2 separate regions of the Homo sapiens genome follow, and region 1 is linked to region 2. The links come from fine-mapping of genetic effects on gene expression. A gene starts in region 2. The other region holds a variant in brackets. All regions are shown on one strand. Distances are from middle to middle.

Region 1 (2,500 bases), 23 kb after region 2:
CTCAAAAGTCACAAATGACACTTCACATTTCTATCCTTCACTCAAGTTATTAAAAGTGAGAGTGCTAAATATCAATTATATATTAACTTAACTAATGTTTTCATCATATTCTGGTGACAACAGCAATTGGAAGGAATGTATTACATGCCATATTGTAAGCCCCAAGTCCAAATTTAGAAGCAACATGTAGAATTTACCTGTTATAAATTGTTTATATAGACCTACCTCCCTAAGTGCCTTATAGAGAGATATAAATATATAAGCCATAGGCCTCTAAGTCTGATCCAGCTGGCTCCTACGGCCTGTCCTGCCTTATCTCCTGAAATGCTTGACTCTTGACTCATCTCCTGAAATGCTTGACTCTAGTAACACCAAACTTTGTGCACTTCTCAATCCTTCTTGGCAGTTTCATGTCTCAGCGCCTTTGGTCATACTGTTCCTGCTGCCCGGAATGTTCTCCCTCTCCTCTCACCCTGCCCCCCAATTCCCCTCCCACAACATTCCCACTCCCCAATATAAATTGGAATAATCTGTTAGGATTCTGTTCTTCAAGGAGGACTTCCCTTTCTATCTCTACCCTGCATCTGGATGATGACATAGGAGTCCAAGAAAGCATATGTAAAGCTGTTTCAAGATCAGAGATAACTACAGTGTTTCTATGTTTTGAACCATAAAAAAAAAAAATCTCAGATTTCAAGAACATTCGGAGAGAACGGTTTTTGCTCCTTAAGCCTAGTTTATTCTGAAAAATTCATAGCTCTATTCAACCTACAGATTTTCTCTCCCTAACTCCACTTGAAAGCATATGTACATACATGCATGCACACACACACACACACACACACACACACACACTGAATCCCTCTACTATATGCCCATGGATCCCTTTATAATAGCAGAGTACTTGGCATATGATAGATGCAAAGTATTTGTTGCTGTTCGCTGAAGAATGATGAAAGAAATATAATAACATAGGTAGATTAACATAGTCCAAAGGGAAGCCAGGTGCTAAGAGGAAACAGATCTGAGAAAAAATTAGAGGTATATAAGAACAATCAGAAAGGGTTTCTGGGGAAAGTCAATTTTTAACTAATTGAGGAAGAATAGAATTGTCATAATAGCTATAAAAACAGAGTTATAATAGTAATAGTGGCAGATAACACTGATTAAATATTTGATATTTGGCAGAAACTATGCTCAAATATTTGTATGTGTTTTTTTCATTATCACAATTACTGT[G/C]ATGTGGATATTATTTCAAATTTATAGATAAGGAAAGTAAGGCTCAGAGAAGTTAGGCTATTTGTTCGGAGTCATGCAGTGATAAGTTATGAAGCTGGAAACTGAACACGTTATAATCTGGCTTAGATGGGAGAGTGTGGAGGAGAAGGAGAATGGCACTGAGTGTCAAAGAACAGCCTGAGCTGAAGCACTAGGAGACCTGCGTGGCTACAGCGTCAAACAGGACAATAAAAAGAAAGTTAGCAACATAAGATGGCAGAAAACCTCAAAAATCAGTGAGAGAAATTCTCTGGATTTTTAAGCAGAAAAAAAATAATGAAAATCATTGATGGTCATAGAGAGCTTGAATATAAGATTTTTGTAAGAATATGATTTTTTATTCTATGACTAAAGCAGAAGAACCATACACATCAAATTTGTAAAAAAAAAAAAAAAAAAAAAAGTGTTTTGCAATAAGAGAGCCAGATTTGCCCTCCAAAAAATTCAGTGTGTGCAAAATATTTATAGTTACTTGGTGATCAGAAAACACACATATCTCCTTACATCCCGTTTATCAAAAAATCCAATTATTTATCATTTAATTGTAGCATATCTGGGATAAAAGAATAATAATTAGCTAAATCACTTCGACATCTACCTGAAATATTGGCTTTAAATATTAAAAATATTTTGACAGCAATGTCCTTTATCTCACAAGATCACTTACAACAGAAAGCTCCTTTAATTACCACAACCTATCAATTAAATAAGATTATAAATTACATTTAATTGCTGTTCTAAAATGTAGTTGAAAAATTCATTTGTACCCTATTTGAATGCCTGGATTATCTATCACCTCACTGCTCTCATCTAAATGCAACTGCTTAACCCATCTTACAGTTTTTAAATGCAATGAGTTATCCACAAAAAAGACAGAATTAAAAAAATAAAATCTACAATCTCCTTTTATTCTTTGGCCCTATGCTAACCATAGAAAATGTACACATTCCCTATATCTGCTTCCTCCACCCCTTAATACATTAAGGACTCTTACATATTAAAGTTGCATAAGATTTTAATAAAAGCATTTGAGACTTCCTTCTAGGTTTCCTGCCTAAATATTTGTAATGGAATATTTCCTAAGCTGAAAACCCCACTAAGAGGTCAGAAGCAACAGGCTGATACCTCTTAAGACTAAAATCTAATGGTATGGGAAAGGTGATTTCATAGAATCAGCTCAAAGACAAGAGGTCTGTGTTTATATGGCATTTTGCATGGGTTT
Region 2 (2,500 bases):
GGCCCCTCCTTTTGCTACCAGACTAAACATTACTGAACATTTCTCCAACTTAAGCAATCCTGCAAGCTCCTTAAGCAATATCAATTCTAGTAATTGATGAAATGGAGGTAAAGCTTATAATACTTTTGATTCAAACTCAGCTGAAATAAAAGCCTGTTACTCCCAACCCTGTTCCCAGTTCTGCTCCTCCCAACCATGCTAGCATTGTTTATAAAAACAAACTCTACGGAGAAACACTTGAAAAAAATGTCAGGTTTTTTTTTAGACTCCCCTAATGCTTTCTCAAACCAAAGGGAGCTTGCTTTTCCAACCAGCTAGAAAAAAGCATGTTCAGCAATAATTCTAGAAACATTGTTCTACTTATCAAGCATTAGGTTAGTGCAAAAGTAATTGTGGTTTTTGTCATTTAAAACCAACCTAATAGAAAAACCCGGTGGGTATCTCAGTCAATATGCAACACCAAGGAAGAAAGACCCTTGGCGTTCTCTATTCCGGATGCTGAGCACACACAAACCTCACCTCCCTGTCTCCTCCATCCCCAGTTCTGTTTCAGTCTGGAAGCAGGTGCTTCCTAATGCCCATCTGCAAGCCCAGCCACCCCAGGCACTGGGACTGATTCTGACCCACAGAAAGAGAGTCTGAGGAGCCCTCGACTAGCAGCTTAACAGTTGGGTCAGGTTCCTGTGGATCCAGTAGTGATCCTGGTCATCTCATCCACTGGACCTGGGTTCCTGCTGCTGGGTGCTTAAACTATACCACACTTTTCCAACGTCTGCATTCTTCTCTTTCCTAGTCACCCTAGCAGCTCTGCAGCCAAACTTCCATTTTTTTTTTTTTTTTTTTAGTCACTAGGATCCTAAACCATGTCCCCATCTGCCCTGGGGTGAGGCACCCTTCTGTTCCCTGCTTCCTCAGTGGCAGACATACTACTCTTTCTACTACTAGGTCTCTTCTCAAACCCAACATGCTGCTGTTCAATAATACTCCTCAGTAACTCACATCTTTGTGCAAATAAGAGAAGCACATCCCCCTTCTACCTCCACACAGCCTGTGGGCACCTAATGTCTAATATCTCAGCAGCATCTAGATTTAAGCCACAACCTTCCCCTTAAGCAGGTAACCTTGTTCATGGCTCACCTCCATACCTTTACCAGGTGGCCCTGCTGACACCTGTGTCCATTCAGCCCCTGGACAGGCCGTCATCCATCCTAGTCTCTGCTGGTCTTCAGCTCACACTGACATACACTCCAGACTGTGTGGAACATGGCCAACAGATTTCACATCCTGCCTTCCTTCCTCTTTGTACTTATTACTCAATTTGTGATTATAATCTGCAGTCACATGCCTACATGAGCAAATCTACAACAGAACCTCCAACTCTAGCCATGCATTAATGTCTAGATTTTTTTTGGTCCAGCCTCATAGGTCCCCTAAGCCTAAGCCTCACAGACCCAGCCATCTCCATATGACCTGAGCCTTAATGTACAGGACTCCACAGTGATGAATGGAAAGGCCTCAGTCCTCCTCAATTCATTTACTACCTCTCTTTTAGGTTTGGTCCTTATTACTAATTAGGTAGTCCAAATGCGTGAGATCAGCTTCATTCATATCCCAAGGATCTACAACCTCTGGCAGCGATGATCATGTAAATGATAGCACAGTTTATTAACCACTTACTAAATGGCCAGCACAGTACTAAGCCCTTTTTCACATAAGGATGAAATCACGGATATTTTCATCCCCATGCTAGATATGTTTAATACCCAGAGCACTGGCCAGAATTCAAACTGAGATCTGATTTCAAAGCCCACACTTTGAAATTGTGGCTTATAGAAAACTATAATAACCATATTTTTAAGAGTATGAACTGTTAAATAATCATTTAATAATATCTTTTAAAAATAAAACAAGGGGATGATACACATTAAATTATGCATTTATCAAACACACTTCTTTAGAAACATTATAATATGAAAAGCTATTAATCTCATAATTAAAGAGAGAAATCCTAAGGAATCAGTAGTCTGGTTGATGGGATTTTCTGCTAGAAGGATGACGAAATTCTCAATAGACCATAATTAAAGAAATAAAAAACAGCACATATAGATTTTTTAAACATACAATATTACAACGAAAAGGCTAAATTTAATCTGAAGTTATAAACTAATGCTATTTAATACAAGTTAAGAAAAAAACTCTGACATTGCTGAGTAAATTAACAGAAAATCTGATTTATGCCCCCCTCCAAAAATATTGAGTTGTGTAGTGTCAACAAATTAGATCAGCTGTATACATTTTGACTGATTTCTAAGAATATAACTATTTTCTTTCTGCATTGCAGAAAGGGAACACGTATAATTAACTTTCTTTCCCTCTCCTCCCCCAACTCTTCTGCTAATACAATGATATGAAGCTGGTTCCGACATGCATATGCACAAACACCCTTCTCTTTCAGCTTTTCAACAAAGCCAGTGCTTTCACCAGTGCTTTCACTGTCCTT

Evidence for each region.
Region 1: its variant is fine-mapped to the expression of ST3GAL6 in stomach (GTEx, PIP above 0.99).

What each region holds. Positions count from the first base shown.
Region 1 is chr3:98,739,407-98,741,906 of GRCh38, reverse strand. It overlaps a transcript of ST3GAL6 not described here. Among named protein-coding and RNA genes, the nearest start is that of ST3GAL6-AS1, 8.0 kb to the right of the region's middle. The variant G/C (reference allele first, on the strand shown) is at 1,240.
Region 2 is chr3:98,762,077-98,764,576 of GRCh38, reverse strand. ST3GAL6 (ST3 beta-galactoside alpha-2,3-sialyltransferase 6) reads right to left here and starts at 1,237. Exons shown (of 10, transcript NM_001323368.2): 1 at 1,138-1,237.